Regions from separate parts of the Homo sapiens genome. Here all the other regions are reported to be linked to region 1. Evidence: microRNA targets listed by miRTarBase, many of them from high-throughput screens and not tested one by one. Region 1 holds a microRNA gene; each other region holds the end of a gene's coding sequence. Distances are from middle to middle.
What was found. The annotated mature microRNA hsa-miR-520c-3p reads AAAGUGCUUCCUUUUAGAGGGU and lies in region 1 at 2,050-2,071, shown strand. An mRNA with a match to its seed (bases 2 to 7 or 8) in the 3' UTR can be bound and repressed. Matches are read on the target gene's strand: a 7mer-m8 pairs with bases 2 to 8, a 7mer-A1 pairs with bases 2 to 7 and ends in A, and an 8mer does both.

Region 2: the mRNA of TMEM134 is a reported target of hsa-miR-520c-3p. Seed matches in the 3' UTR shown: 7mer-m8 at 1,695-1,701, 7mer-A1 at 2,240-2,246, 7mer-m8 at 2,394-2,400 and 7mer-m8 at 2,734-2,740.
Region 3: miRTarBase lists CCDC30 as a target of hsa-miR-520c-3p. Seed matches in the 3' UTR shown: 7mer-m8 at 1,134-1,140 and 7mer-m8 at 1,987-1,993.
Region 4: the mRNA of CCDC125 is a reported target of hsa-miR-520c-3p. Seed matches in the 3' UTR shown: 7mer-m8 at 1,285-1,291.
Region 5: miRTarBase lists TRAF3IP2 as a target of hsa-miR-520c-3p. Seed matches in the 3' UTR shown: 7mer-m8 at 1,155-1,161 and 7mer-m8 at 2,160-2,166.
Region 6: miRTarBase lists SUGP1 as a target of hsa-miR-520c-3p. Seed matches in the 3' UTR shown: 7mer-m8 at 1,070-1,076.

What each region holds. Positions count from the first base shown.
Region 1 is chr19:53,705,457-53,709,543 of GRCh38, forward strand. It overlaps MIR520C (microRNA 520c), which reads left to right and starts at 1,997; the gene lies at 1,997-2,083. It overlaps MIR526A1 (microRNA 526a-1), which reads left to right and starts at 796; the gene lies at 796-880. It overlaps MIR518C (microRNA 518c), which reads left to right and starts at 3,279; the gene lies at 3,279-3,379. It overlaps LOC107985346 (a long non-coding RNA gene), which reads left to right. Exons shown (of 5, transcript XR_001753998.1): 4 at 1,629-1,751; 5 at 2,813-2,853.
Region 2 is chr11:67,461,267-67,465,353 of GRCh38, reverse strand. It overlaps TMEM134 (transmembrane protein 134), which reads left to right. Exons shown (of 7, transcript NM_025124.4): 5 at 254-298; 6 at 498-551; 7 at 658-3,644. The coding sequence ends at 740. It overlaps CABP4 (calcium binding protein 4), which reads right to left. Exons shown (of 6, transcript NM_145200.5): 6 at 3,602-4,087. Among named protein-coding and RNA genes, the nearest start is that of TMEM134, 5.9 kb to the left of the region's middle.
Region 3 is chr1:42,653,306-42,657,392 of GRCh38, forward strand. It overlaps CCDC30 (coiled-coil domain containing 30), which reads left to right. Exons shown (of 21, transcript NM_001395517.1): 20 at 71-138; 21 at 513-3,885. The coding sequence ends at 723. The region is part of intron 1 of LOC124904162 (a long non-coding RNA gene); the gene reads right to left. Among named protein-coding and RNA genes, the nearest start is that of PPIH, 3.1 kb to the right of the region's middle.
Region 4 is chr5:69,279,356-69,283,442 of GRCh38, reverse strand. It overlaps CCDC125 (coiled-coil domain containing 125), which reads left to right. Exons shown (of 12, transcript NM_176816.5): 12 at 409-3,268. The coding sequence ends at 714. Among named protein-coding and RNA genes, the nearest start is that of CDK7, 47 kb to the right of the region's middle.
Region 5 is chr6:111,555,770-111,559,856 of GRCh38, reverse strand. It overlaps TRAF3IP2 (TRAF3 interacting protein 2), which reads left to right. Exons shown (of 9, transcript NM_147686.4): 9 at 306-4,087. The coding sequence ends at 452. It also overlaps TRAF3IP2-AS1. Among named protein-coding and RNA genes, the nearest start is that of TRAF3IP2, 48 kb to the left of the region's middle. RefSeq lists an enhancer at 1-493.
Region 6 is chr19:19,273,301-19,277,387 of GRCh38, reverse strand. It overlaps SUGP1 (SURP and G-patch domain containing 1), which reads left to right. Exons shown (of 14, transcript NM_172231.4): 13 at 312-441; 14 at 714-1,355. The coding sequence ends at 740. TM6SF2 (transmembrane 6 superfamily member 2) reads left to right here and starts at 4,087. Exons shown (of 10, transcript NM_001001524.3): 1 at 4,087.

The DNA of each region.
Region 1 (4,087 bases):
AGCTCACTGCAACCTCCACCTCCCAGTTTTAGGCAGTTCTCCTGCCTCACATTCCTGAGTAGCTGGGATTATAGGTGCCTGACACCATGCCTGGCTAATATTTGCATGTTATTTATTCATGTATTTATTTGTTTTGAGATGGAGTCTCACTGTCACTCAGGCCAGAGGGCAGTGGCAGGACCTCGGCTCACTCAAACCTTTGCCTCTCAGGTTCAAGCAAGTCTTCTGCCTCAACCTCCTGAGTAGCTGGAATCACAGGCACCCGTCACCACGCCCGGTTACTTTTGTATTTTTTTTTTCACCATGTTGGCCAGGCTGGTCTGAAACCCCTGACTTCATGTGAGCCGCCCGCCTCAGCCACCCAAAGTGGTGGGATTACAGGCATAAGCCACTGCGCCCGGCCAACAATGTATATTTTTCAACATGGGAGATTCAGTTTTGAATGCTCCCATCGGGACTGTGTGTCCCTGTGCTGGAACTCAAGTGAACGCTTGGCTCAAAATCCATTGCTGTTCTCTAGAAATCCAGCCCAATTCTCTTGGTTAAATGTAAGGTATGTGTAGTAGGCAATGCTTTTTCTGGAGACAGAACTCAGGAGGATTGTCCCTCGATGATCTAGGCTAACCTGCTGAGACTTTGAAGCAAGGAACTGGAGATGGTCCTTTTAGGGTTTTATGTTCTGGATTCCAGAAAACATGCAAACAGGGCCAATAAATGCATCCTCATTTTTGTGTCCATTTTAACCTGGTGAAGGAAAATTCCAACAAAAAACCCACAGTGCTGGAGCAAGAAGAGCTCAGGCTGTGACCCTCTAGAGGGAAGCACTTTCTGTTGCTTGAAAGAAGAGAAAGCGCTTCCTTTTAGAGGATTACTCTTTGAGAAAAACAACATTGAAGTTAATGCTGATCTTGGAGATCATGCTTATAATCAGACTTGGATGATGTTGGGGTTTTGTGGGGTTTTTTTGGTTTTTTTTCCTAAGACAGGGTGTCTGTTGCCCAGGCTGGAGTATGGTGGCCCCTCCAACCTAGATCTCTTGGGTTCAAGTGGCCCTCTTTTTTGGGACAGAGTCTTGCTCTGTGACCCTGGCTGGAGCTCAGTATCAGGAACTTTGCTCACTGCAACCTCTGCCTCCCAGGTTCAAATGATTCTCCTGCCTCAGCCTCCCGAGCAGCTGGGATTACAGGCATATGCCACCACGCCCAGCTAATTTTTGTATTATTGTTATGTATTTATTTTTTAACTTATTCATTTTAGAGACAGAGTCTCACTCTGTCGCCCAGGCTGGAGTGCAGTGGTGCGATCTCGGCTCACTGCAACCTCCAACTCCCAGCTCAGCCTCCTGAATAGCTGTCTGCAGGCATACACCACCACACCTGGCTAACTTTTGGTTTTTTTGTACAGATGTGGTTTCCCCATGTTGCCCAGGTTGGTCTCGAACTCCTTAGCTCAGGTGATCTTCCACCTTGGCCTCCTAAAGTGCTAGGATTAGTGGTGTGAGCTGTTGTGCCCCACCTATACTCGTCTGTTTCTGCTCAGATTTTATTGAGGAGCGTTTACAGGGTAGCCTGTTGTCTACCCTGCAGGATGTTTGTGCCTACAACAGTGTATATTCTTCAACATCTTAGATTCCATTTCGGATGCCCCCATGAGGACTGTGCGCTCCTGTACTGGAACTCAAGCGACCACTTGGCTCAAAATCCATTGCTATTCTCTAGAAATCCAGCCCAATTCTCTTGGTTAAAGATAAGGTATGTGTAGTAGGCATTGCCTTTTCTCTTTGGGAACAAAACTCAGGAGGATTGCCCGTTGATGAACAAGGCTAACCTGCTGATTCTTTGAAGCAAAGAACTGCAGATGGTCCTTTTAGGGATTTATGCTCTGGATTCCAGAAAACATGCAAACAGGGCAAATAAATGCATCTTTATTTTTGCGTCCATTTTAACCTGGTCAAGGAAGATTCCCACAAAAAATCCACAGTGCCAGAGCAAGAAGATCTCAGGCTGTCGTCCTCTAGAGGGAAGCACTTTCTGTTGTCTGAAAGAAAAGAAAGTGCTTCCTTTTAGAGGGTTACCGTTTGAGAAAAGCAACATTGAAGTTGATGCTGATCTTGGTAATACATTTTCAGAGCATGCTTATCATCAGAGATGGATGATGGTGGGCTTCTGTTTTTGTTTTGATTTTTTCTTTTTTTTTTTTTTGAGATGGAGTTTCGTTCTTGCTGCCCAAGCACTAGTATGTAGGAATTATTCTTTATGTGAGCATATAGTACATGGAACTTTGTTTTTTTGAGACAGGGTCTCCAAAATATATACATGTTATCATATAATCTTCTATGTATAATTATATTCACACAAAATAGTCTTCTGCACACAGAGAATACTCTTATATCACTTTGGGGTTGTTTTTGTTTGTGTATTTTTTTTTTTTTTAATTTTTTTTGAGACACCATCTGGCTCTATTGCCCAGGCTGGAGTGCAGTGTTGTGACCTCAACTCACTGCAGCCTCTACCTCCCACCTCAGCCTCCTGAATTAGTGTCTACAGGCATGAACCACTACACCTGGCTATCTTTTGTATTTTTACAGATGAGGTTTTACTATGTTGGGCAGGCTAGTTTTGAACTCGAGCTCATGTAATTTTCCCGCCTTCGACTCCTAAAGTGCTGGGATTAGAGGTGTAAGCCACTGCACTCCACCCGTACTTCTGTACAAATGTTATTGAGGAGCTTTTACGGCCTAGGCAGTGCTCTATCCTGGAGAATGTTTGTGTGTAAGACAATGCATATTCTTTTTTTCTTTCCTGTCACCCAGGCTGGAGTGCATTGGCACGATCTCGTCTCACTGCAACCTCCGCCTCCCGGGTTCAAGCAATTCTCCTGCCTCAGCCTCCTGAGTAGCTGGGATTACAGGTGGGCACCACCACGCCTGGCAAATTTAGATTCCATTTTGGATGCTCCCATCATGACTGTGTGTCCCTGTGCTGGAACTCAAGTGACCATGTGACTCAATCCATTGCTGTTCTCTAGAAATCCACCTCAATTCTCTTGGTTAAAGGTAAGGTATGTGTAGTGGGCATTGCTTTTTCTCCTTGGAGACAAAACTTAGGAGGATTCCCCTTGATGAACAAGGCTAATCTGCTGAGCCTGGAGATTGTCCTTTTAGAGGTTTATGTTCTGGATTCCAGAAAACGGTCAAACAGCGAATAAATGCATCTTTATATTTGTGTCCATCTTAACCTGGTCAAGGAAAATTTCAACAAAAATCCCAGATGGCTGGAGCGAGAAGATCTCATGCTGTGACTCTCTGGAGGGAAGCACTTTCTGTTGTCTGAAAGAAAACAAAGCGCTTCTCTTTAGAGTGTTACGGTTTGAGAAAAGCAACGTTGAAGTTGATGCTGATCTTGGTAATACATTCGCAGAGCATGCTTATCAGGCTTGGATGACGGCAGGGTTCTGTTTTGGTTTTATTTTTTTCCAAGACCAGTCTCTGTTGCCCAGGCTGGAGAGGGAGGGGTTGCACTCCAAACTAGATCTCTTGGGGTCATGTCTTGCTCTATTATTATTATTAATTCTTATTTTTGTGTGTGTGTGAGACGGAGTCTCGCTCTGTCACCAGGTTGGAGTCCAGTGGCGGAATCTCAGCTCACTGCAACCTCCGACTCCGTGGTTCAAGCGATTCTCCTGCCTCAGCCTCCTGAGTAGCTGGGATTACAGGCACGCACCGCCATGCCGAGCTAATTTTTGTATTTTTAGTAGAGACCGGGTTTCACCACGTTGGCCAGGATGGTCTCAAACTCCTGACCTCATGATCCACCCGCCTCGGCCTCCCAAAGTGCTGGGATTACAGGTGTGAGCCTCCGTGCCCAGCCTGTTATTTTATTTTGTTTTATTTTATTTATTTTATTTTATTTTGAGATGGAGACTGGCTCTGTCGCCCAGGCTGGAATGCAGTGGCAGGATCTCCACTCACTGTAACTCCCACCTCTGTCGCCCAGGCTGGAGTGCAGTGGCAGGATCTCCACTCACCGTGGAGTTCCAGTGATTCTTTCACCTTAGCCTCGCAAATAGCTGGTATTACAAGCACCCA
Region 2 (4,087 bases), not on the chromosome of region 1:
AGTAGGTGTTCCATAAATGTTTGCTGAATGACTAAAAGCCCACCCCAAGGAACAAAGAAAAATCTCTCCTTTCACACACTTCCCAGGGCCTGCTCAGTGCCTTGCTCTGGAAACAGAGCTTGGTGAGCTTCCTGGGGAGGGTCTCTGCCTAGGGCACCTTCAGCTCAGGTGGTGGGTGAGCCGGGCTGGGGGTGGGAGCCCCCGCCCTCACCACTGCTCCTGCCCCCACCCCCGCGGCTCCGTCTGTGTGCAGTGCTGATCCTGGTCGGCGTGGGACTGGAGGCGACCCCCTCTCCAGGTGAGCGACCCTCCCGCCCCCACAGGCAGAGGACACCCCTGTCTTGTGTCCACGGGTCCACGGCAAGCCCTCCCACCTCCCGGCAGTACACGGCTCCTTTTCAGCTGGGAGTGAGGCTTGCCCGGGCAGTCAGCGGCAGCCCGGAAGGCCTCGAAGCCTCCGCCCCCTCGCCCTGACCGGGCTCTGGTCCCTCCCGCAGGTGTCTCCAGCGCCATCTTCTTCGTGCCGGGCTTCCTGTTGTTGGTGCCTGGAGGTGCGAGCGGGCACCGGGGCGGAAGGGGCGGGGGCTGTGGGGCGGCACTGGGGGCGGTGTTGCGGGGAGGGGCGGGGCTTCTGCGCTGACAGGCCCCGCCCCGCAGTCTATCACGTGATCTTCATCTACTGCGCGGTCAAGGGCCACCGGGGCTTCCAGTTCTTCTACCTGCCCTACTTCGAGAAGTGATCGCGGCGCAGCGTGGACCCCTTGCGCCCATGGGGGCGCCCCTCTTGCCCTGTTCCGTTCCCCTCATCTCAAGGGAAGAGGCCCTCCAGGACCCTCGAAACCCCAGCCCCTAGGGAGTTTGCTCAGGAAGTTCGGGGCATGCAGGCCTGGCCCTGGGAAAGCCGCCCGTCGCCTGCTCTGTGCCTTAACTTATTCTCGGGCCGTGCGGCTGCTAGGTTGCTGTTATTTTGTGCTAATAAAAGAGTAATTAATTCCACCAGAGGCAATTGCTCTCCTCCTGTCCTGCCACTGCTAGCCCAGCCCACCAGCCTGACCACAGCCCCCCTCCCAAGGACTGACCCTGACGCTGAAGGGCTTCGAGCACCACCGAACGCGTGGCAGCCCTGATGCTGAGGCTTGCCCAAGGGCACGGGGCATGTTAGGGGCAGAGCTGGGCGTAGGACTCCTGCCTTGCCAGCCAGGAGCCGGCCGGAACAGCCTGCCCCACCCCCAGCCCTTGGATGACTCAACCAGCCCGTCTCTGTCTGGTGGCCCTGGCCGAGGGCACGCAGAGATGACGCAGGCCTGGGACCTGGAGGCTGGTATCCTAGTTCCAGCCTGGCTCTGGGGCCCTGGGCTGCCACAGCCAGCCCTGAATGTGGGCCATGTCAAGGCAATGGCCCAGCCCCCTCCACCCACTGCCCTCCTTCCCAGTCCCAGAGGTTGGGAGAACCTGGGGGCAGAGGGCATAGGAAGCCGCGCCTGACAGACACCCTCAGTGGTCAAAGACTTAGAAATGCAGAACGTTAGAAACAAACCATCTCAGAATTTTGGAACATCAGCATTTCAGAATCTTACGAAACAAGAAACAGAATCTTTGAGAAACCTGAAATCTGAGATCATAGTAGCTACCAGTTATCAATTTGTTGAAAGACCCCAGGATGGCCGGGCACGGTGGCTCAAGCCTGTAATCCTAGCACTTTGAGAGGCCAAGGTGGGAGGATCGCTTGAGCCCAGGAGTTCGCGACCAACCTGGACAACATGGCGAGAACCCATCTCTATTTAAAAAAAAAAAAAGAAAAGAAAATATACTAGGCCCTGCGCTAAGCACTGAACACGGGTTATATCTTGTAATCTTCACTACCTCCGTCCCATTTTACAGATAAGGACTGACTCACCCAAGGACAGCCAGCAGGTGGTAGGTAGAATTAGGAACGTAGCCCAGGGCTCTTCCCATGACACTGTCGGGGAGGGAGAAGGAAACCGGCACTGAGCTGGTCTCCCCTACCGGCCAACCAAGAGGCTGGCTGAGTGAGCAAGGGTTGGGAGGCCCTGTTGGTGCACCTGCCCGTACTGTCTATCTCCCCCACCAAAACACGGGTCCCACAAACCACTGTCTGCAGCACCCAACACAGCGGGGCCTTCAGGATTCTGAGTTAGAGGAATGGACACCCAGACTCTTGCTCTCGCTCCCACCTTTCCAGGCCCCGCAGACTTCCCACCCTCATCCCCCATTCAAGGCACTTAGGGGGCACCCATTGGATGCAGGAACTCCTAAACCAGTGGTCCCCCAACTAGCTATGGTAAAGGACCAGTTTTCATTTCTAATCCATCACGGTCCAGTACTTTCATAAGAAGAACTAGCCGGGTGCCGTGCCTCATGCCTGTAATCCCAGCACTTTGAGAGGCCACGGTGGGAGGATCACTTGAGCCCAGGAGTTCGAGACCAACCTGGGAAACATGGGAAAACCCCATCTCTACAAAAAATACAAAAACTTAGCCAGGCATGGTGGGGCGCCTGTAGTCCCACCCACTTGCGAGGCTGGAGTGGGAGGATCACGGAGCCTGGGAGGCTGCAGTGGAGTCATGATTGCACCACTGCACTCCAGCCTGGAAGACAGACTGAGACCTATTTAAAAAATAAATAAATAAATAACATAAAAATTTTAAAAACTAGAAAAATGAAATAAAAAACATACAGAGGCTGGGCGTGGTGGCTCATGCCTGCAATCCCAGCACTTTGGGAGGCCGAGGCAGGTGAATCATGAGGTCAGGAGTTCGAGACCAGCCTGGCCAACAGGGTGAAATCCCATTTCTATTAAAAATACAAAAAAATTACCGGGCATGGTGGTGCGCACCTGTAATCCCAGCTACTCAGGAGGCTGAGGCAGGAGAATCGCTTGAACCCGGGAGGCAGAGGTTGCAGTGAGCCGAGATCACGCCACTACACTCCAGCCTGAGCGACAGAGCGAGACTCTGTCTCCAAAAAAAAAAAAAATACAGAATACAAGTCCACAGTTTATCAGATTAATTAGACATAAAATTACATTTCAATAAATATAATCAGAACAAACATAGGAAAAAGGAAAAATGACAAAAACCATTGAATATGAACAAACAGGCAATTAACACAGAATCGCAGCTAACAACTTTTTACTCCTTGTTTTTTTTTTTTTTGTTTTTTTTTTGAGACGAGTCTCACTGTCTCCCAGGCTGGAGTGCAGTGGCCCGATCTCGGCTCACTGCATCCTCTGCCTCCCGGTTTAAGCGATTCTCATGCCTCAGCCTTCTCAGTAGCTGCGACTACAGGCACATGCCACCATGCCCAGCTAATCTTTGTATTTTTAGTAGAGACAGGGTTTCACTATGTTGGCCAGGCTGGTCTCCAACCCCTGAGCCACCTCGCCCGACTTCATTCTACAGTCTTAACAGAAAGCAATTTCAGAAGTGGTGATTCCCATCATTAGAAGTCTGCGTTAGGAATCAGCAAGGTATAGTCCACAGAGTGGTTTTTATATTTTGTAATGGTTGGAGAAAAGTCAAAGAATAATAAGATTTTATGACATAAAATTATATAAAATTCAAATTTCCATGTCAATAAATGAAGTTTTACTGTTATTTATTAAAATTTCTGATATAGCCACACTCATTTGTTGACTTGACTTTGCACTACAAACTTCAACAGCAGAGTTGCGTGAGCAGCTGCAACAGAGACCAAAGCCTCAAAGCTGAAAATAATTATTCTCCAGCCCTTTACAGAAAGTTTCCCCACCCTTAGTCTACATGAACACTTTGACAGAACACCGTGAATCTGACTTTTCTCTCCAGTTATTTATAAGATTTGCTTTTTATATTCTGTGGTTTCAATGGGATATATCCAGATATATATTTATTTTTATTTACCCTACTCTGACTTCAGTTTGTTCCTTCAATCTGGGGAGTTGAAGTCTGTGGAAGTCTTTATGGAAAATTTTCAGCCATTATCTCTTTGGTTATTGCTTCTTGTTCATTCTCTATGTATGTCCTCCGTCTGAGACTCCCAAGGACTTATCTGTCTTTTTCTTTGAGACAGGGTCTCTTGCTCTGTC
Region 3 (4,087 bases), not on the chromosome of region 1:
TTTTTCTAGGATCATATAGCTAATGGTTTATCATTATAACTTTTCACATTCATCCTTTCTTTCCTTTTAGGAAACAACAATTAGTGACATCCTTGAATCCGAAGTAGTGAATGAAATATTGCCTTTATCAAACTCCAGGTTAGTAAAGTCAAGACAAATAAAGTCAAGTCTATCTGAGATGGACTGTCAGCCATGCCTGAGAGTCATGGCTGCCTAACTAGTCCTGGATTGCTGGCTTGAGAAGGCATAGCTTTCTGGGGTCATTTTCTCTACATGAATTATTTGAATCTTCTTCCAATTCCTCCCCTTGCCACTCCTTCAACTCTAAACCCCACAGAATCCTGACTTAAGGTAGGAAATAAAATATGAACATAGGTTTAAGGTAAATTTTATTTGGCTTTGTGTAACAGTTGCAAAAAATTGAAATTCTATCAATGCCTGTATCCCTGTAACCCCGAACTGCTACCAACAAACTCTATGTACATGATGTCCTCACATATGGCATTTCTTAGTTTTTCAGGAAAAGGTTTGGTAGAGTCATTTGCAAGTCTTCAAGAGACTGAAGAGATCAAGTCAAAAGAAGCAATGGCAAGTTCAAAGTCCCCTGAAAAGTCTCCTGAGAATCTTGTGTGTTCACAGAATTCTGAGGCTGGATACATAAATGTGGCTTCTCTGAAGGAGACACATGGTATACAAGAACAAGACCAAAAGTCAGAACTATAAAATCACTGGTGCCTAAAGCTATACTGAACAAAAGTGGTAATTTAAAGCCTGGACAAAAGGTGGACCATGACATTGAGAAGAGTTACCACAGATCCCAAATGGATATCACCCAAGAGTCTTCAAAACTGCTGATAAATTCATTAAAGCAGTTGTAAAAATGGATTTCTCAAGTTTGTTTGATATCCTCAGATGCCTTGTATTGACCAAAATATTGACTTTAGTTCAATGATTTATTTAGGTTTCTCTTCAGCAGAGCACATGTAGGGTTAATTCAACATTCTTTCCCATTATCATGGGTATCTTTTCTGATTTATTTTTTAACAGTAAAAACAATACAGTCACATTAAAGCAAATTTTGTTTTTAAAAAAACCCTCCTATGCTGGGCGTGGTGGCTCACGCCTATAATCCCAGCACTTTGGGAGGCTGAGGTGGGTGGATCACGAGGTCAGGAGATCGAGACCATCCTGGCTAACACGGTGAAACCCTGTCTCTACTAAAAATACAAAAAAATTAACCGAGTGTGGTGGCGGGTGCCTGTAGTCCCAGCTACTCAGAAGGCTGAGGCAGGAGAATGGCGTGAACCTGCGATAGCACCACTGCACTCCAGCCTGGGTGACAGAGTGAGACTCCGTCTCAAAAAAAGCAAAAAACAAAAACAAAAACCCTCCTATAATACCATAAGCTTTTTTTTTTTTTTTTGAGACGGAGTCTCTTACTCTGTCACCCAGGCTGAAGTGCAGTGGCATGATCTCCGCTCACTGCAACCTCTGCCTCCCAGGTTCAACCAATTCTCCTGCCTCAGCCTCCCAAGTAGCTGGGATTATAGGTGCCCGCCACCATGCCCAGCTAATTTTTGTATTTTTAGTAGAGACAAGGTTTCACCATGTTGGCCATGCTGGTCTTGAACTCCTGACCTCAGGTGATCCACCCACCTCAGCCTCCCAAAGTGCTGGGATTACACCAATACCACAGTCTTAACACAACTAATTTTATTTTACAGTTATTCCCTTTTGGTCCTAATTCAAGTACATATATTCTAAGTGGTTATTATAATATTGTATATTCATTTTCACAGTTTGATTTTTAATTTACTGTATATACCATGGAAACATTTTCAATCGCCATATGATATTCAATCATGTTGATGTTCTATAATTATTTTTATGGGAAAAGTTTTAAATGTTTAATGAAGAAGATTTAGAGCAATACATTATTTAAAAGTGGATAGGAGGTTGGGCGTGGTGGCTTACACCTGTGATCCCAGCACTTTGGGAGGCCGAGGTGGGCAGATCACCTGAGGTCAGGAGTTCGAGACCAGCTTGGCCAACTTAGGGAAACCCCGTCTCTAACAAAAATACAAAAACAATTAGCCAGGTGTGGTAGTGCGCGCGCCTGTAGTCCCAGCTACTGGGGAGGCTGAGGCAGGAGAATCACTTGAACCCGAGAGGCAGAGGTTGCAGTGAGCCGAGACTGCACCAGTGCACTCCAGCCTGGGTGACAGAGCAAGACTCCATCTCGAAAAAATAAATAAAATAAAATAAAATAAAAGTGGATAGGAAAATACCAAGAGCTTTTCCTGGGGGAGGGGGTATGAGAAGAGAGTTCACATAAACCCCATTACACAGAAACTACCCCTAAATATTTCCAAACAGGAGTACAAAGTAGGTGAACAGTCTCCAGCTCATCTTTAGTGTAGTGGGACTGCTTCTTCAGAAAAGATCAGCAACATTCACATCCATTTCATCTATCAGGGTGGAACAGTACTGCTCAGTATCTCTGAGGATGTGGATGTTCTATAAATTAAACGTTCTCTTGTTTGGCATTTAAGCTGTTTTTACTTTTTTTTTTTTTTTTTTTTTTTTGAGACAGGGTCTCACTTTGTAACCCAGGCTGGAGTGCAGTGGTTTGATTACTGCTCATGCAGCCTCAACCTCCCATGCTTAAGTGATCCTCTCTCCTCAGCCTCTCCCAAGTACAGGCATGTGCTACCATGCCTGGCTCATTTTTGTACTTTTTGTAAAGACGAGGTCTCACTCTCACTCTATTGTTCAAGCTGGTCTCAAATTTCTGGGCTCAAGTGATCCTCCCACCTAAGCCTCCTAGGTGATAGGATTATAGGATGAGCCTCTATGCCAGGCCTGGTTTTACTTTGTTACTATTTAAGATTATGCTGTGTTGAAGGTCTTTGTGCATGTAGTTCTTTTCTTCTTTTGAATTACTCCAGAAAACAAATTCGCAAGATTGGACTGAGTCAAAGGATATAAATGTTAATATTGCTCTAGGACATCACTTCCTTTGCTTTAAAAAAGGGTTCTGCCTGACCAGGTGCGGTGGCTCACGCCTATAATCCCAGCATTTTGGGAGGCCGAGGCAGGTGGATCACTTGAGGCCAGGAGTTCAAGACCAGCCAGGCCAACATGGCAAAGCCCTGTCTCTACTAAAAATACAAAAATTAGCCGGGTATGGTGGTGCACACCTGTAGTCCCTGCTATGCGGGAGGCTGAGGCTCGAGAATCACCTGAACCCAAGAGGTAGAAGTTTCAGTGAGCTGAGACCACTCCACTGTACTCCAGCCTGGGCAAAAAGTGAGACTCTGTCTCAAAAAATAATAATAATAAATACATAAATAATAAAATAAATAAAAAGTGTGTCAACATACTGTTTTCATAGTCAAGTTACTCAACCTCCTTGAGCCTCAATTTCTTGATTCCTAAAATGGGAACAATAATAGTTCTCTATCCCATAGGGTTGTGAGGACCAAATGAAATGAAGCATGTAAAGTATTTAGCACGTAGTAACTGCTTAATAAATGCTATCATCATTTATTTTCACTAGAGGTTTATCAATGTACTATTTTTTTCACAACCTCATCAACATTGGATATTATCAATTTTAAAGATTTATTCTAAAACAGTTGGTATAAAATTATACTGAAGCGTGACTGCTGCTGTTCCTTTTCCCCCTCCTCCCCTTTCTTCTTTTTCAGTTGGAGGAGACCAAGAGGAGAGGATCAGTAACCAGAAATAAAAATGACCCTTTACATTGAGACACACTGTATTTTTATATGTAATCCTTGCTTTCTCAGACAACAGAGCTAGAAAGATGATCATAGGAACTAGGAAATAATAACTATTTTATTAAATGCATGCTGTTATATTGAATGAGCCTTGCCCAAGGTCCCCTTCTTTCACTAAATTCATTGCATCTATTATTTATTGAATACCTACTATATGCTATTCAGTAGGCGACATTGCAGCTACAGCTGCGAATAGGACCAGGAGAGTCTCTACTTTCATGGAGTTTATATGCTATCAGGGAGGAAGATTATGTGTGTGTGGCAGGAAATGAGGTGTAGACACATAC
Region 4 (4,087 bases), not on the chromosome of region 1:
TCAGACCATCCTGGCAAACACAGTGAAACCCCGTCTCTACTAAAAAATGCAAAAAATTAGCTGGGTGTGGTGGCGGGCACCTGTGGTCCCAGCTACTTGGGAGGCTGAGGCAGGAGAATAGTGTGAACCTGGGAGGCAGAGCTTGCAGTGAGTGGAGATAGTGCCACTGCACTCCAGCCTGGGTGACAGAGCCAGACTCCGTCTCAAAAAAAAAAAAAAAAAGATTCATGAATAACATGTAGTATAATGTTTGGGGATCAGGTGATACCTAATTTATTCATACTGATGGACAGATCAGTATGAATATTAGGGTTGAATAACTTGATAAAATAGTACAATACTCCTTTCTCTGAATATATTCTGTGATTTATTGACTAACTTGTACATGTTTAATTTCTGTGCATGCAGCTTAATGATAAAGAAGAAGCTTTGGCTCATCAAAGAAAAGTTAGCTACATGCTTGCTCGGGCATTGGAAGACAAAGACACTGCTTCAAACGAGAATAAAGAAAAAAATCCTATAAAAGAGAATTTCCCTTTCAACAACCCCTGGCGTAAGACTTCAGAATTCTCTGTTTTGGGTGATCCTATACATTCAAGTGTCTGCATTTTAAATTCTGTGGGCTGCATTTGTTCAATCCAGCACTCTCAAATAGATCCAAACTATAGAACTCTTAAAAGATCCCATTCTTTGCCATCAAGTATCATATTTTAAAGACAAGCCAGTTGAAATTGGAACTGAGAGTTGTTTATATCGAGATACTTTGAAAAATGATTTTGTAAATTTTGCTGCATCTTGAGAAGTTGTATGTTTCCTAGGTATTTCTAAATTTTAGGAGGTCACTTAAATCAAATATTTTCTACATTTTCTTTTTCTTCTTTTGAGATGGAGTCTTGCTCTGTCACCCAGGTTGGAGTGCAGTGGTGTGATCTCGGTTCACTGCAACCTCCGCCTCCCGGTTCAAGCAATTCTCCTGCCTCAGCCTCCCGAGTAACTCGGATTACAGGCATGTGCCACCACGCCCAGCTAATTTTTGTATTTTTAGTAGAGACGGGGTTTTACCATGTTAGCCAGGCTGATCTTGAACTCCTGACCTCAAGTGATCCGCCTGCCTTGGCCTCCGAAAGTGCTGGGATTACAGGCGTGAGCCACCACACCCAGCCTATTTTCTACATTTTCTACAAGAAATTAGTATTCTGTGTTGACATTTTATTTATAAATTACATTACTGTATTTATAAATTACATTACAGGCTGGGCATGGTGGCTCATGCTTATAAATCCCAGCACTTTGGGAGGCCAAGGTGGGTGGGTCACCTGAGGCTGGAGTTCAAGACCAGTCTGACCAACATGGAGAAACCCCATCTCTACTAAAAATACAAAAAATTAGCTAGGCCTAGTGGCGCATGCCTGTAATCCCAGCTACTTGGGAGGCTGAGGTAGGAGAATCGCTTGAACCTGGGAGGCGGGGGTTGTGGTAAGCCGAGACTGTGTCATTGCACTCCAGCCTGGGCGACAAGAGCGAAACTCTGTCTCAAAAAAAAAAAAAAACACATTACAGTGTTTGCCAACATCCTAAAACAAAAAATAATGATTTTTGGGAAAAACAAAAAATTATTTAACTATTTTGATTGACTATAGGGATCTTAGCTTGGCTAAATCAACAATATAGCAATGTATCTTAATGCTCTAAAAAGTAACAATACCTAGGACTGACTGAATGTTAATTTCTGGAATTCATTTATCTTGTTTTATTTGCCTTGTTCAGTATTTTTCATTTACCATATGAAGTTTAGAAATAACAATTTCCTTAAGTTAACTTCAATAAGACAGTTTTGATGGTGGGACCTTGGCAGAAGTATATTGAGTCAGTGCCGGCTGCGTTCATGGCTTCTTGTCAGGGTAGTAACATTTTGCAACCAAATCTGCACAGATTTGTAGCCAAGTCTACAAAGTGCTTAACAGCTCTTTTCATTGCATCCTGTGAGATGGTTGTGATGATCCAGGAAATGGGGTCTCAGGAATCTGAAGAAGCTGCCTGAGCCAAGGTGATTTCTAGGAGTTTTTTTGTTTGTGGTATGTGAATTGGGGTGTGTGGGGGTGGGGTGTGTGTGTAGACAGGGTCCCACTGTGTTGCTCAGGCTGGTGCCAAACTCCTGGCCTCAAGGGATCCTCCTGCCTCAGCCTCTCAAAGTGCTGGGATTACAGGCATAAACCACAACTCAATAAAAAAGTTTTTAAAAATTTACAAAGCTCATATTTGATCCAGCTAGGATTTTACCCTGTACATTTGTATTTCTTGTAGGCTGGCGCACAGATATCTTAAATGGCTACTAATTGCTGCTGTGTATGAAAACAAATGGCTATCAAGGCCGGGTGCAGTGGCTTACAGATCTGGTCTGAATCTCAAGTCCAGACCAGTCCAGAGTTCAAGACCAGCCTGGGCAACATGGTGAAACCCCATCTATACAAAAACTCGGCAAGGCATGGTGGCATGCACCTGTTGTCCCAGCTACTCAGGGGCTGAGGCAGGAGGATGGCATGAGCCCAGGAGCTTGAGGCTGCAGTGAGCTGTGATTGTGCCACTGCACTCCAGCCTGAGTGACAGAGTGAGACCCCCATCTCCAAAAGAAAAGGCTATCAATACAAAAGTTTATCTAAATTACTGTACAGCTATACAATGGAATACTCTACAAAATGGAGAGATCCATAAGATAAAGCAAATGAATAAAGCAAAATGCATGTGTTGACAGCTGTTGTGATACCTCAGTTCTTGTCTTCTTGGTTTAAAAGAATTTAAATGAGACAGCAAAGGAGATGCAGCATAATTTATTGCAAAAGAAAAGGAGTATTTTGAAAGTTAGGTGCAGAACAGACAGTACACCTGAGAGAGAGAATTCAGGGCCGGCTGCTCGTAAGGGTGAGACAGCATTGATTATTGCTGGAGAAACTCCCTTTATGGGAGTTTTGCATTATTATTCATAAGGAGGTGAGGTGTTGCAGTAATCATGTCCTGGGTGGTCCTCTGCACAGGTGCAGTAGCTGTTAATGCTTGTTCATACACCACATGTCTCAGTAGCATCTTAAATTTCCACCTAGAGGTGTGTTTTTTATTATTATCATGTGCAAAGGATCAGTTTGAGGACAGGTAAAATCAAAATGTGTATGCTCTCTAGAAGGGAAAGTCCCTACTGAAGATAGCTTTGCTTAAATGAGCTCAATTACAATGTGAATGCTGAGGTTTATTGTGTTGGCTGTATGGTCATGAGAAAATGGTCATTTCCTTGACTACCTGATACGGTTTGGCTGTGTCCCCACCCAAGTCTTATTTTGAATTGTAATCCCCATAATTCCCACATGTTGAAGGAGGGACTTGGTGGTAGGTGACTGGATCATGGGGGTGGTATCCCCCATGCTGTTCTCATGATTGTGAGTTCTCACGAGATCCAATGGTTTTATACATGGTAGTCTCTCCTGCTGCCATGTAAAACATGCCTGCTTCCCCTTCTGCCAGGATTGTAAGTTTCCTGAGGCCTGCCCAGCCATGTGGAGCTATGAGTCAATTAAACCTCTTTCCTTTATAAATTACTGAGTCTTGGGTAGTATTCTTTATAGCAGTTTGAGAACGGAATAATACACTCCTATCCTGCCTCACGTGTTAGACACATTTTGAGTGTCCTCAGATCCCTTTGGCGCTATTATCTCCTGGACTCTTAGCTGCTTGGCTGCTTCTCCCTTGGCAGCTCCCTGTCTACACACACACACGAGGAAGTCAGACAGATTTGAAGCACGAGTGGGTTTGATGCACTGCTGCTGTCCTGTGGTGAGTGCCACAGGACAAAGGCATGGAAGTTTCCTTAAGAAGCTGAGAGAGGCCCTGGGCTAACAGTCAAAAGGGAAATGGGGGCAATGGAGCACAAGAATTGCAACTATAAGAACTGCATGAGCGGCCGGGCACGGTGGCTCACGCCTGTAATCCCAGCACTTTGGGAGGCCAAGGTGGGCGGATCACGAGGTCAGGAGATAGAGACCATCCTGGCTAACACAGTGAAACCCCGTCTCTACTAAAAATACAAAATATTAGCTGG
Region 5 (4,087 bases), not on the chromosome of region 1:
TGTCCTACCCCTTTTATGTGAGGGTGGTGAAAAGCAAGTTGAAATGCAAAGGGTAGGTAGTCTGGGAGACTGACAGAAAATGCTGTGCACATGTGGTTTTTATAATGAGATATACAGCTTGTACCCGAAGCCAAGAACATTTCACATGCTAAACCTTTCCAAAAGCAAAACAGCACAACTCCCAGGATAGTTTGGTAGGAAACGCCCATGTAGGGAAAGCCAGAAATGTTTGGGAACTGAGCCTGGGATCTGGCATCCAGGTTTTTCTCTAATGACCTTTGCTCCTGTCATTCTGCCTCCCATAGGAGCATGTGCCCACCTGGCTTCAGAACACTCATGTCTACAGCTGGCCCAAGAATAAAAAAAACATCCTGCTGCGGCTGCTGAGAGAGGAAGAGTATGTGGCTCCTCCACGGGGGCCTCTGCCCACCCTTCAGGTGGTTCCCTTGTGACACCGTTCATCCCCAGATCACTGAGGCCAGGCCATGTTTGGGGCCTTGTTCTGACAGCATTCTGGCTGAGGCTGGTCGGTAGCACTCCTGGCTGGTTTTTTTCTGTTCCTCCCCGAGAGGCCCTCTGGCCCCCAGGAAACCTGTTGTGCAGAGCTCTTCCCCGGAGACCTCCACACACCCTGGCTTTGAAGTGGAGTCTGTGACTGCTCTGCATTCTCTGCTTTTAAAAAAACCATTGCAGGTGCCAGTGTCCCATATGTTCCTCCTGACAGTTTGATGTGTCCATTCTGGGCCTCTCAGTGCTTAGCAAGTAGATAATGTAAGGGATGTGGCAGCAAATGGAAATGACTACAAACACTCTCCTATCAATCACTTCAGGCTACTTTTATGAGTTAGCCAGATGCTTGTGTATCCTCAGACCAAACTGATTCATGTACAAATAATAAAATGTTTACTCTTTTGTAAGATTATGTTTTACTTATCTCAAAGGAGATACATATAATTTATAATGATATGGGCAGTTGCTTCCAGGGACATCAACAAAGCTGCTTAGATATAATATTAGATAAATATAACAGACCACTCTGTATTAATGGATTAAAGCCAGCTAGTTAAACAACCCTTTTTAACCATAATCATGGAAGCTTTATTCTTGCAATAAAGATTTTTAGGCTGGGCGCAGTGACTCACACCTGTAATCCCAGCACTTTGGGAAGCTAAGGCAGGCAGATCATTTGAGGTCAGGAGTTTGAGACCAGCCTGGCCAACATGGTGAAACCCCATCTCTGCTAAAATTACAAAAAAGTTAGCCGGGCATGGTGGTGTGCACCTGTAATCCCAGCTACTCGGGAGGCTGAGGCAGGAGAATCACTTGAACCCGGGAGGCAGAGGTTGCAGTGAGCCGAGATCATGTCACTGCACTCTAGCTTGGGAGACAGAGCGAGACTCCGTCTCAAAAAACAAACAAACAAATAAAAACACCCATTTTTAACAAAACAACTTTATATAGCATACAGCCATGATTCTAAATAGTATGATTATGGTTCTCAGGATCTGACTACATAGGTAAAAATATTTGCATATGTGTATGAAGTGTTGGGGGATGTAGGCTAGAATTGTAGTCTGTGTTCTAATTTTGGTTCTACCACCAATTAGCTGTATGACCTTTAGCAAGTCCTTTAACTTTTCTTAGATTCCAGGGACTCATTTATAAAATGACATGGACAAAAGCATCTCTAATCACTCTAAAAGATTTGAAGTCTAGGACCTAAATTCTAAATACTCTTTTGAGGAGTGACTGAGTTTTCATTTTCATAATTATGTCTCTCAGAGGACAAATTTACATTTTCTTAACAGAGACATTTTCTTCTTCTTTTTTTTTGTTTGAGACAGAGTCTCGCTCTGTCGTCCAGGCTGGAGTGCAGTGCTGCAATCTTGGCTCACTGCAACCTGCGCCTCCTGGGTTCAAGTGATTCTTCTGCCTCAACCTCCCAAGTAGCTAGACCTATAGGCGCCTGCCACCATGCCCAGCTAATTTTTGTATTTTTAGTAGAGACAGGGTTTCATATTGGCCAGACTGGTCTCGAACTCCTGACCTTGTGATCCGCCCACCTCGGCCTCCCAAAGTGCTGGGATTACAGGTGTGAGCCACCACACCCAGCCAACATTTTCCTCTTTTAAAAAATATCTTCTCACGCCTGTAATCCCAGCACTTTGGGAGGCTGAGGCAGGCGGATCATGAGGTCAGGAGATCAAGACCATCCTGGCTAACACGGTGAAACTCCATCTCTACTAAAAATACAAAAAAAATAGCCGGGCGTGGTGGCAGGCGCCTGTAGTCCCAGCTACTGGGGAGGCTGAGGCAGGAAAATGGTGTCAACCCGGGAGGCGGAGCTTGCAGTGAGCCGAGATTGCGCCACTGCACTCCAGCCTGGGCAATAGAGTGAGACTCCGTCTCAAAAAAAAAAAAAAAAAAAAAAACTTCAACAATACCCTCAGGTTGATAATTTTGGATATCTATCTGTATCTATATATCTTGTTTACCTGGTCTCCAGAAAAAGAACACATACACATATCCATATATAAAATATGTATACATGTATCAAATCTACGTAAACTATAAAGGTGGGATGGCTTTAATTATGGCCCAAGCTACTAAGACAATGAAGACTTTTTGGGGCTGCAAGCTACTGCTTCCCTTCTTTATCTACTAGCCTCTTAAACAAGGCTCACTTGTGCTACAAGACAGTCCACCGTTTTGTTTTTTTTTTCTTTTTTTTGAGACAGGGTCTCACTCTTTCCCAGGCTGCAGTACAGTGACACAGTCTCAGCTCACTGCAGCTTTGACCTTGCCGGGCTCAGGTGACCCTTACACTTCAGCCTCCCAAGTAGCAGGGACTATAGGTGTGCACCAACATGCTTGGTTAATTTTTGTATTTTTTGTAGAGACAGGGTTTTGCCATGTTGTCCAGGCTAGTCTCGAATTCCTGGGCTCAAGTGATTCACCTGCCTTGGCCTCCCAAAGTGCTAGGATTACAGATGGGAGCCACCACGCCCAGCCCAGTCCAGCTCTTATATGTAGCACAGGGAAAGGACAAATACTTGTCAACTATAAATAAGAAACATTGCTAATGCATTGCAAAGAACACTAGTTTCATTTACTTTATAACTTAGATGTCTACTGGGTGAGACGAATGTCTTTGTTCTTTAAAAAATAGGAAAAGAGAAGAAAAACTAGCATAACATAAGTACTCATTTGTAAGACTTTCTGACATGTAACATTAGTTCCGTAGTTTTGAGACCTGGTAGAACTGACTTTCATATTTGGATAACCTGGAAAACACCCAAACACAAACTTCAAGTCTTCTTTCTCTTTTTTCATTATCTTTTTTAGTCTGAGGTGACACCATCATTAAGGATTCGACACCCGTTTGTAAATAAAATGACATCAGCAATTACTCTGAAATGTTTCTAGTTTGCAAAGACTTAGCAATGTGATGTTATTAACCCTTCCTCCCTTCAGAGACCTGTCCTAAGCTCTGAACCACTCATTCCTTCCACTCTTCTTACCCCAGGTGGTTGATGAGCAGTGGTCCCTGGTGTTCCACAAAGAGTCATTAAAGTGTTACAGCTGGTAGCACTGGTAGCAAAAAAACAAACCAAAAAGTACACACAGACACACACACACACACGCACACATACACACACACACGCACTTGGCCAAGTGACAAAAGCTTGGCCCCTGAAATTTCTATGAGATCCGATGACCACCAACATCAAAGCATTTTTTTTTTTTTTTTTTTGAGACGTAGTCTCGCTCTGTCACCCAGGCTAGAGTGCAGTGGTGCAATCACAGCTCACTGCAACCTCCACCTCCCGGGTTCAAGCGATTCTCCTGCCTCAGCCTCTCGAGTAGCTGTGACTACAGGCACCTGCCACCATGCCCGGCTAATTTTTTGTATTTTTAGTAGAGACGGGGTTTCACCGTGTTAGCCAGGATGGTCTTGATCTCCTGACCTCGTGATCCATCCGCCTCGGCCTCCCAAATTGCTGGGATTACAGGCATGAGCCACCACGCCCGGCCCATCAAAGGAATTGTAACAACTATTTGAGAGCACTGACAATAAGATTAACAC
Region 6 (4,087 bases), 34 Mb from region 1:
GGTGTGACCCTGGCCCCGAGTGCCCCCTTCAAGGCTGTCCTTGAGTAACCATCCTGCCATCCCAAGAGCTGCGACAACTTGCACTGTGGGCTCCTCCTTCCTGTGTGGGACCCTGGGGCCTAGGCCCCCCCCCCCCGCCCGCCCCGGGGGTCTCCCCTCCTTGACCATTCAGGTTCAAGCTTCTCTCTGTGCAGATATGTCCCAGCCCAGCCCTGCACCCGCGGGAGGTGCTGTTGAGAGCCCAGCTGTGCCCGGCCCCCCGGCCAGAGTTCTGGCCCCAGGTCCCTGCTCACATCCTCTTCTCCCTGTAGGGGCACCACCACAGTGGACGGCGCTGGCTTCGGCATTGACCGGCCGGCGGAGCTCTCCAAGGAGGACGACGAGTATGAGGCGTTCCGCAAGAGGATGATGCTGGCCTACCGCTTCCGGCCCAACCCCCTGGTACGCATGTCCTCCTGGGCTGCCTTTGCTCAGTCGACAGGAGAGGGTGGTGGTAGGAACAGAAGGCTCCCTTCCTTCCTCAGTCCAGCCAGGCTGGGTCTCACCAGCGAGCCCCCTACCACCCACCTGCATTCAAGCCCCCACCCGTCCCCCAAGCCTGCCCTGCCACCTCAAGGGTGCGGGCTCAGCTGCCTCCGGAAGGTTCCAGACAGGAGGAACTGCTGTCTTTAGTGCTAATCCCCTCCTCCTGTTATCTGTTTTGCCTTCCACAGAACAATCCCAGACGGCCTTACTACTGAGTGTTCTGGAAATACATACTTTCTGAATGACCAACCGTCCCTGGACTGTGGAATGTTCCGGCCTGCATTTCTGCCCACCCCTTCCGTTGTCACGAGTGCCGTGCCGTGTAATAAAGTCCCAGTGCTCATCCACCACAGATGCCTGGTCCTGTTGCAGGAAGCCCCTCCTGTTAGCAGCGGGATGCAAGATGCTGTCTCGGGGCTCTCCTTATTGGCCTGTGGAGTCTCCATCCCCGCTCAGCCTGGGTTGCACTGGAGGGGAGGAAGAAAGTTGTTTTCAGCATAGTAAAGCTGGAAGGCCAGGTGCAGTGTCTCACCCCTGTCATCCCAGCACTTTGAGAGGCCAAGGCGGGCGGATCACTGGAGGTCAGGAGTTTAAGACCAGCCTGGCCAACATGGTGAAATCCTGTCTCTACTAAAAATATAAAATTAGCTGGGCATGGTGGTGCACACCTGTCGTCTCAGCTACTCGGGAGGCAGAGGCAGGAGAATGGCTTGAACCTGGGAAGCGGTTGCAGTGAGCCAAGATTGCGCCTTTGCACTCCAGCCTGGGCAAGAGAGCAAGACTCTGTCTCAAATAATAATAATAATAATAAAGCTGGAGACTTGGCCACACCTGGGCTAAAGGAATGTCAGGAACCTCCGAGCCTAGCACTGTGCTGCAGAGGGAGGTTGGGGAGGGGTCTCCAGGCAGGGCCCCACCTTCCCTCAGACCTGTGGGGGCAGGTGGCTTCTGGGCACACCCATGTGCTCTCCTGGCAGGTGGTGCTGGCACGGCCCAGCACACAGGTGTTGGCTGTGGCCCTTCAGGTCCCACCAGTGTGGTAGGCACACGAGTCCCTGGGGCTTGTGTCGTTAGGGGACAGCCGCATGGATGCATGGATGTGCCATGCCAACATGTCAGGCAGCTCCTAGAAGGAAGGGCCTCAGAGCCGGAGGTTTTGAGGCAGGAGGGTAGCCCAGGCCACAGTGTGTGCCAAGACCCCCACATCTGCCCCAGGGCCAGAGCCCCACATTTGTGCCTAAGTCACCCTGGGGATCTTGTTAAGCTGCAGCTGCCGAGTCAGCTGGTTGGGCAGGGCCCTGGGAATTTGCATTTCCATCTGCCCCCACCCCCTCCACACACACCCAGTGGGTGCTGCCCAGCCCCTGCAGGCACCAGGGGCTCCCTATTCACATGCTTGGCATGGAGTCGGGCTCCTGGGCCAGCTTGTGTTCACACAGCCATTCAGCAAACACTAGGTGCCAAGTGTGGGGACCAGGTGGACAAGATCTACTCCAGTCAGCCAGGCTGCTGGGGATGAGGTCTGAGGCTGCTACTGAGAGGAACCAGGGAGCCGTGGTGGGGCGGTCTGCAGAGTGTCTCAGTGGGGTCTGAGACCAGGGAGGTGCCAGATGCAGTGGCAGAGCCAAGGCTGGGGTGATATACCACCCTTTGTTCTTTCCTGACGCTGTGGCTGAGGCAGAGCAAAGAGTAACATTGGTGGGCTTGGCCTGGGTGCCCATGAATGAGGGCTGCCCAGAAGGCAGTGGGCCAGGACCCTGAGCACAGCGGGGTAGTTCTCTGCAGCCAGTGGTTCAGGGAATCCTGGCACTGGGTCCCAGGCATTCAGCCATCCAAGTCACTTCTCAGTTCTCAGCAACCTGGAGGCTCACCAGGCTCAGGGCATGGACTTTACCCCTTGCCAGGGGACGAGGCCTCCAAGTGCTGTGTGCGTGTGCAGGTGCATCCTGTACACGGGACAAGGCCAAGCCCCTAGGCTGAGCTGGGCACAGGCACCCTGGCCTTGTGTGGAGAAGGTGGGGTGGGGGTGGCAGGCAGGGCTGCCTGGAGGAGGGGATGCTGGGGCCCGCTTACAAGAAGGCTCATTTTACAGACAGAAAGCAGGCCTGGGGGGTGTTGACCCTGCTAGAGTTGGGGAAAGTCCAGGGGAACCTGAACTTCACCCATGGGCAGTGGACACCTGGGGAAGGAGGCTGAGTCAGACCTGCGGCCAGAAGACCCTCTTGTGGCCCAGTTCAGGAAGACCTGTGACCCAGTTGGCATCAAGCTAAGGGGCTGCGTGCAGAATGGGGCCTGAGGTAGGGGCAGTGGTTAGAATTTGTGCCAGCTGCAGACTGGGGTCCCGCAGGGCAGGCGTCAGGTGGGCATGGTTCACCTTGCTGTCTGCAGCATCCACAAGTACTCCACATGGGCCAGAGTCTGGTTGGAGGGGGTGACAAAGACAGATGGTCTCCTTATTCTCCCCCCCAATACTGTGGCCCCCTCCCAGCTGTTCAAAACCTCCCACAGCCTCTCACAGCTGTCTCGCTTCTCATCACACCCCAGCAGAACCGACCTCCTTTCCACTGCTCAGTTCCAAGCCTGAGCCACTTTCCTCCCTGCCAGGAACACCGTTCCCAAACTCTTCACCAAACTGGCTCCATCCCGATATTCTAACTTCAGCCCCCACCCGCTAGGACCCCTTCTACCCTCTCCCCGAAATGAAGAACCCTAAACCCGGGACTAGCCTGCAAAGGGACAGCCCCGGAGTCAAAGCCTCACACTTAAAGACCCCTCGCAGTGGCTCACGCCTGTAATCCCAGCTCCTCGGGAGGCTGATGTGGGAGGATCTGTTGAGCCCAGGAGTTTGAAACCAGTCTGGGCAAAAAAGTGAGACCTCTGTCTTTACAAAAAATAACTAGCTGCGCGTGGTGGTGCATACCTGTAGTCCCAACTACTTGGGAGGCTGAGGTAGGAGGATCTCTTGAGGCTGGGAGTTCAAGGAGGAGGGCCACTGCACTCCAGTCTGGGCCACAGAGTGAGACCTCTCAAAAAACAAACAAAAAAACTTCACACCTGCCTGGAAACACGTTTACATTTGTGGCCACCTTATGAAAACTCAAATCTAAGCCCACTGAAAGGCATTTTGCACCCAAGAGCTGGAGGTTGCTCCATCCGTGCGCACAGGGAATGCCGACTTGATCTTTGGGTGGGGATGGGAAACTCTGGGGAATGCAGAGGTTTAGAAGCGCAGAGTCCAGGAGAAAATTTCCTTAGAACGAAGTTGTGGAGGCAGGGGAAAGAGGGGGCACGCCAGGACCTCCAGGGCGCACCCCTTGGCCTAAGAGCAGAAGCATCCCGAGGTGTTGTGTCCCAGCCTTTGACAGTGAGGGAAACTGAGGCTGAGTAGCGGGACGGCCATTGGAGACGAGGGTGTCGATGGTGAGGGGCGAAGGGGCGGGGCAGCTGCCAGGGGGAGGGCCGGGGAGGGGCCTTGGAGGCTCCCTGGGAACACGCAGGGCGGTCACGGCGGCCTGCCCAGGGCGCAGCGGGGTCGACCTTTGTGCGGGGCGGGTCCCTGGCA